Homo sapiens: one gene and its partner. The protein of the gene in region 2 purifies or fractionates together with the protein of the main gene of each other region. This does not show direct contact. Each region holds a gene or a part of one and is shown on either strand. Other genes may lie near its edges.

The links.
Region 1: the proteins of SH3BGR (region 2) and TRNAU1AP fractionate together in Homo sapiens (co-fractionation; one large-scale study listed by BioGRID). This does not show direct contact.

Annotation. Positions count from the first base shown.
Region 1 is NC_000001.11:28,573,527-28,577,342, reverse strand, and holds part of TRNAU1AP (tRNA selenocysteine 1-associated protein 1), read right to left. Parts: intron 1-3,816. UniProt on the Homo sapiens protein: Involved in the early steps of selenocysteine biosynthesis and tRNA(Sec) charging to the later steps resulting in the cotranslational incorporation of selenocysteine into selenoproteins. Stabilizes the SECISBP2, EEFSEC and tRNA(Sec) complex.
Region 2 is NC_000021.9:39,500,156-39,503,971, reverse strand, and holds part of SH3BGR (SH3 domain-binding glutamic acid-rich protein), read right to left. Parts: intron 1-3,816.

The DNA of each region.
Region 1 (3,816 bases), on a different chromosome or scaffold from region 2:
GATGAAAATAGAATAATGTATCTAGAGAATGGGAAAATGGCAGCTGTTAGCCTGCATCTATTAAAAGCTACACCTGTGTCTCTAGCCATCATGTATCCTAGATTTTCTGGTCTGGTCCTCACTTCAAATTTGGGTTTAGAAGGTCTGATCAAAGTTATTAAGTCCAGAGCATCATCTCAAGAACTGACAATAAGTGCATAGTGGAAGAACTTCAGTCAAATATAGGAGCTGAAAGGCCAAGTCCTGTATGTATGTATGTGTGTGTGTATGTACTTTAGAGAAAGGGTCTTGCTCTGTCACACAGGCTAGAGTACAGTGGCACACTTACAGCTCACAGCAGCCTTGAACTCTTAGGTTAAAGTGATCCTCCCGCCTTAGCCTCCCAAAGTACTGAGATTACAGGCATGAGTCCCTGTCCCTGGTGGTAAAATACTATTAAAAATTTTTTCTGCACAGTGGCTCATGCCCATAATCCCAGCACTTCAGCAGGTCGAGGCGGGCAGATCACCAGAAGTCGGGAGTTCAAGACCAGCCTGACCAACATGGAGAAATCCCATCTCTACTAAAAATACAAAATGAGCCGGGCATGGTGGCACATGCCTATAATCCCAACTACTCGGGAGGCTGAGGCAGGAGAATTGCTTGAACCCAGGAGGTGGAGGTTGCGGTGAGCCGAGATGGCACCACTGCATTCCAGCCTGGGCAACAAGAGCAAAACCCCGTCTCGGCCGGGCGCGGTGGCTCACGCCTGTAATCCCAGCACTTTGGGAGGCCAAGGCAGGCAGATCACAAGGTCAAGAGATCGAGACCATCCTGGCCAACATGGTGAAACCCCGTCTCCACTAAAAATAGAAAAATTAGCTGGGCGTGGTGGCAGGCACCTGTAGTCCCAGCTACTCGGGAGGCTGAGGCAGGAGAATCGCTTGAACCCGGGAGGCGGAGGTTGCAGTGAGCCGAGATCACGCCATTGCACTCCAGCCTGGGCAACAGAGCAAGATGCCATCTCAAAAAAAAAAAAAAAATTAGCTGGGCATGGTGACCTGTGTCTGTAGTGCCAGCTACTAGGGAGGCTGAGGCAGGAGGATCACTTGAGCCTAGGAGGTCGAGGCTGCAGTGAGGCATGTTCACATCACTGATCTCAAGTCTGGGCAACAAAGTGAGACTCTGTCTCAAAAAAAAAAAAAAACTGGGCACTGTGGCTCATGCCTGTAAACCCAGCACTTTGGGAGGCCGAGGTGGGCAGATCACAAGGTCAAGGGATTGAGACCATCCTGGGCAACATGGTGAAACCCTGTCTCTACTCAAATACAAAAAATTAGCCGGGTATGGCAGTGCACGCCTGTAGTCCCAGCTACTCGGGAGGCTGAGGCAGGAGAATCACCTGAACCCGGGAGGCAGAGGTTGCAGTGAACAGAGATGGCACCACTGCACTCCAGCCTGGCGACAGAGCAAAGACTCTATCTCAAAAAAAAAAAAAAAAAAAAAAGCCAGGCGCAGTGGCTCAAGCCTGTAATCCCAGCACTTTGGGAGGCCAAGGTGGGCGGACCACCTGAGGTCAGAAGTTTGAGACCAGCCTGACCAACATAGAAACCCCATCTTTATGGGGTTAGAAAAATAGAAATAGAAAATTAGCTGGGCATGCGAGATTGCGCCACTGCACTCCAGCCTGGGCGACAGAGCAAGACTCCGTCTCAAAAAAAGAAAAAAAGAAAATTAGCTGGGCATGATGGCGCATGCCTGTAATCCCAGCTACTCGGGAGGCTGAGGCAGAAGAATCACTTGAACCCGGGAGGCGGAGGTTGCAGTGAGCTGAGATCGCGCCACTGCACTCCAGCCTGGGCAACAAGAGTGAGACACCGTCTCAAAAAAAAAAAAAACAAAAAAAAACATTGGGCCTGGCGCAGTGGTTCACACCTGTAATCCCAGCATTGGGAGGCAGAGGCGGGCGGATCATGAGGTCAAAAGATAGAGACCATCATGGCCAACATGGTGAAACCCCATCTTTACTAAAAATACAAAAATTAGCTGGGCGTGGTGGCGCGCATCTGTAGTCCCAGCTATTCAGGAGGATGAGGCAGGGGAATCGCTTGAACCTGTGAGGCAGAGGTTACAGTGGGTCGAGATCGTGCCACTGAACTCCAGCCTGGTGACAGAGCAAGACTCTCAAGAAAAAGAAAACAAAAAAAGGATTAAAAAGAGATTGGAAAATTCTAAGGACTTATCTACAGATATTATGAGGCTAATTATCTCTAGAAAGAAGGCAATGTCTCCCAGGGGGAAACAACTAGAGACTTGAATATAAAAAGACCGGACTGTCCTGACTTTGCCCCACACTGTGTGACCCTCAGCAGATCACTTGGGCTTTCCGAGCCACTAGTTTCCCATCTGTGAAATGGAGCTCCTGTGTCCTTCCCAGCCCACCCCACAAGGTCACTACAGTTGGCATCACATGAGAGGACACAAGAAAGTGCTTTAAAATGTTATGAACTAGACAAGTTTGTTCATGCCCTAAAAGGGATCTGTTTCCTTTAACGAACATTTTCTTGACAGAAAACATTTTCCCTATGACTTTCTCTTGAAGACGAATCCTCAAAACAGATTTCAAACTTTGAGTCTTTTTGTACCTCAAAAAAAGTTTTGGCCAGGAGCAGTGGCTCATGCCTATAATGCCAGCACTTTGGAAGGCCGAGATGGGCAGATCACTTGAACCTAGGAGTTCAAGACCAGCCTGGGCAACATGGTGAAACCCTGCCTCTACAAAAAAATAGAAAAAAATAGCCAGTTATGGTGGGGCACAACTGTAGTCACAGCTCACTGAAGCCTCAACCTCCTGGGCCCAAGCAATCCTCCTGCCTCAGCCTCCCCCAAGTAGCTGGAACCACAGGCCACCATGCTTGGCTTTCAGTTTTTCTTTCCTTTTTCTTCTGTGAAATTCAGTGAAAATTATAAATACTTGGCCGGGCACAGTGGCTCATGCCTGTAATCAAAGCACTTTGGGAGGCTGAGGCGGGAGGATTACTTGAGGTAAGGAGTTCGAAACCAGCCTGGCCAACATGCTGAAACCCTGTCTCTACTAAAAATACAAAAATTAGCCGAGCGTGGTGGTGCATGCCTGTAATCCCAGCTACTCAGGAGGCTGAGGCAGGAGAATCACTTGAACCTGGGAGGCAGAGGTTGCAATGAGCTGAGATTGGAGACTGCACCACTGCACTCCAGCCTGGGTGACAGAGCAAGACTCCGTCTCCCAAAAAAAAAAAAAAAAAAAGAGATGGGGTCTCGTTATGTTGCCCAGGCTGGTCTCAAAGTTCTAGGCTCAAGCCATCCTCCAACCCACGTTGGCCTTCCAAAGACCTTACAGGCTTTAGCCACCGTGCCTAGACAGTAAATACTGTTGTTTTTTTTTTTGAGACGGAGTTTCACTCTCGTCACCCAGGATGGACTGCAATGGAGCATTCTTGGCTCACCGAAACCTCCATCTCCCGGGTTCAAGTGAGTCTCCTGCTTCAGCCTCCCAAGGAGCTGGAATTACAGGCATGGGCCACCATGCCTGGATAATTTTTTTTTTTTTTTGAGACAGAGTCTTGCACTGTTGCCCAGGCTGGAGTACAGTGGTATGATCTCGACTCACTGCAACTTCCGCCTCCCGGGTTCAAGTGATTCTCCTGCCTCAGCCTCCTGAGGAGGTGAGATTATAGGCGCGCAACACCACGCCTGGCTAATTTTTTTATTTTTAGTACCGGCAGAATTTCACCATGTTGGCCAGGCTGGTCTAGAACTTCCGACCTTAGGTGATCCTCCCGCCGTGGCTTCCCAAAG
Region 2 (3,816 bases):
TCCTTTACTCCTGAGGCGCCGGTTCCTTAGCCCCTCACCCTCCCCTGGGTTATCAGGCCAGGCCCCATGAGGTCCCCTATTTTCTAAAGTTACAGGTAAGATCTTCCTAGGCATGAAGTCATGGTCTTTTCGGTGTTCACCCTCCTGACCTCCCAAGTCCTCCTGCCTCAATCCTTTATCAAGGACAGAATTTACATCTTGGCATCTTGTCTTTAAGAACCCTGGAAGTTGAGGAGGTGGTCAGGGGAAGTCCATATCATTAAAGAAGATAATAGTTTTTGTTTCCATTTCTGTTGATTTTTTTAATCAATGTCAAACATTAGGTAAATATTCCTCTCCATTAAATGGAATTGTATGAGTGCCTACAAGTGTGCATTGAGTATGCATGTTTCATAGCAGAGATCAGATAAGCCTGTCCCTGACTTAGGCATTTACCTGGTTTATCACTCAACTGAACATTGCCAGGTGCTGGAGAGAGGTTTTTTGCTCGTTTTGTGTTTTTACTGCACACATGACAATTGTTTTTAACACACAAATGAAGGCAGGTTTTTTTAAAAAAAAGGTAAAAACTTGATATGGTTTGTCATCTAGTTAACAGAAATGCACCAATGCATTGCATTTCTGGTTTCATTAAGGCTAGATGAGATGTCACCATTTGGGGAAGTTGGGTGAAGGGCACACAAGACTCTTATTTTTGAAACTTCCTGTGAGTCTATAGTTATTTCAGAATAAAATGTTTAAAACTGTTTTTATTCCTTCTCATAATAAGTGTGGCTGAAGGCCAGGATATGAATTGTGACTTGTTCTTTCTGCTACACAAAGCTGAGGGGGTAGAGGGGTCAGAGTAAGAGTTATTTTCTCTTCCCACAGGCGACCTATTTGTTCTGGCTTTCCACCCCTAAGGAAGAAAGTATAGACCTTGGTTTTCAAAACCTTAGGCTAATGGGGTGATAAAGCTAGGCGGTCCCTGAGGAAAAAAAAAAAAAGAGCTTGGAATTGGCAAGACGGAGGTGGCCAGACTGGGGAGGAAAGAAGGATTTTCCAGGAGGGGTACTGCCCAGGCCCTGCTCATACACAGAAACAGAGCCAGGGACCGCTGGGGCATTTAAGTAACACAAGGCACTCTGTACAGGCAGCAGCGTCCGCGGTCAGAAGGCCAGCCACTGTGAAAGGCCAGTCTGTGTCCAGCCAGAACAGAGGGTCTGGCCCATGCCAAGGGACAGACAGCAGAAACACCACCACAGACAACCAGCACCCAATCCCTGCCCAGTCACCACTAACGACCCCAGGATGGCTGTGAGACCCTCAGGAGGACAGGGTCTTCAAAACACCCCACCCAGCTGGAAGCTCCTGCCAGCCATGAGGTGGGCACATGGAGCAGATAGAGGGAATTTAAAGCAATAAAGGAAGCTGACATTCCTTGCCCAGGAGTCTTAGGAACCAAATGTGGGCCCACGAATATTCTAAACTTTATATCCACCGCAGCGTGTTGGTTAATGAGGGAAGCCCAGGGGAGCACCTCTGTTTTAACCACAGCAAGCCAAGAGGAGCAAAAAGAAATAGCCTCAAGATGGTTTCAACGGAGCCAGGAGTTTGAAAGCCTTGGATTTATCTGAGGTGTCATACCTACATGAAACTACTAGGATGTGTCTCATACTTTCAAAATCAATGTTCAAAACACACAGAGCTCTCCCTTGTCTTTCTGATTCCCTGTCAGCCTGTCTATGCCTGGGGTGCCCTGGGAGGAGAGATGCCTTTACAAATAGCCCACAATGTCCTCCCATTTCAGCAATTTTTTTTTGAGATGGTCTTACTCTATTGCCCAGACTGGAGTGCAGTGGCACGATCTCAGCTCACTGCAAACTCTGCCTCCCGGGTTCAAGCGATCCTCCCACCTCAGCTTCCCAAATAGCTGGGATTACAGGCGTGCGCCATCACAGCCAGCTAATTTTTGTATTTTTAGTAGAGACGGGGTTTTACCATGTTGGCCAGACTGATCTCAAACTCTTGACCTCAAGTGATCTGCCCACCTCTGCCTTCCAAAGTACAGGGATTATAGGCGTGAGCCATGCGCCCGGCCCCATCTCAGCTTTTAACAACAAACCAGAGACCGTCAAAACAAGCCAGTAGGTTCTTGAAGCACAAAATGCAAGCATTCTAAATATCTAAGTGGTGTTTGTCTCCTTCTTAAATTTTAAAATTCAGCCTATTTTCATATACACTCATAAGGGTTAATCATGTTTTTACAACATTTTTCATCTGTTTACTGACAATCACAGAGGGTTTTTCTAATTTAATTGAATTAAAGTAAATCAAAGAGCATGTGTTGGTTTTCAAACAGGAAGAAGTCAGAATCTGTCTTTCTGTAGGATAAATGGCATTAAAGAGTTGAAAAGTAAATTTGATAATATGATGTTAGTAATATATTCATATAAAATAAAAATATTTTTCACTTACGGTCATTTCTTCACCATAGCCCACACAAAAATAACAAAAAATGGTTTTTTTAATTCCTACCAGGATTCACAAGATTATAATTGACTTTGTCAAAGGCTCACAATTTTAAAATGTAGTAGCAAAGAGAACGTCCAAGCTGGGTGATTCATCACTTCACAGAACTAACCCAGCCCAGTGGCTGAGAAGCTGAAGCAAAGCCCACCCTGGCTATAGGAGGCAGGATCTGATTATAAATATGCTACCTTCCTGCTGGTCTCACGGGAGAAAGGGGCTGGGGTGTAATGCTTTTCATCTTTGTCTCTATGTCTTAAAAGAAGCAAACTCAACTTCAAAGTATTCATCAATATGACTGTAAGGGTGCATTAGGCAACTCATGCAAAGTTCAAATTGTGAAACAGATTATGTTTTAATTACAAGATAATGAAATGGTCACTATATTTAATTTTTAAAGTATTGTTTCTGAATTATACAGGCTGCCATGAAACACCGTCTAACTTCTAGGTCAAGATTGAAGATTTTGTCTTTCTTTAAAACAAAAACTTCAGAGTTGTAATATCAACATTTTGAAATAGCAGTCTACTTCAAATATAAGTCTAAATATCAGGGAATTTCCTTCCCTAGCCCCTCCCAATTTAAGTTCTTTGAGGTAAAGACAAATGGATGCCCAGCCCCACACCCCTTTTTCCATAGCGTGGGTGTGGGTCTCAGCCCCTTTCTAGCCACATTCTATCTGGTGAATGAGGATCCAGCTCTCATAAAAGCTCCCACACCTCTCCCAGAATAAATAAATTAGCAAACCATCAGGGTTTGAAAAATAGTCTTTGCTACAACTGACCCAGTGGAGAAGCCCTCTAACATTCTCCTCTAAGGAGGCCCAGAACAATGCCTGCACCCCATTCCCAGCCCCACCAGGCTCCTTCCTTGGCGCCTGGTTTCCCAGCACATTTTCAGAACTCCTTGAAGAAGTGGCCCATCCCATCCCCTATTATGTCAGCTTGGCACTCACAGAACCACAGTGTCCCCCAACATTGCCCACTCCTTACCCTGCTGCTACTGCATGGGAACCCCTTTAGAATTAATCATGTGACTTCACCAAGATCTGCTATTTCCCTGATTGAACTTAAATTAACTGAGTGTCAATTTCCCTCCCCAAGGAGTCCTTTTTATCCTCAAGTTCCTCTTGTCTTCCGCCAGATATACTGCACTCCCTTAGCTCTATTTCCCCACTGGGCAGGGCTCCTGGGTGGGTGTAAGCTAGGAGTCTGTCATTAATCATGATCAAGCAGAAAGGTCCCTTGTTTATAAAGAGCATACACCTAACCTAGCCATAACACCACCACAACAAATTCTCCAAGCCTT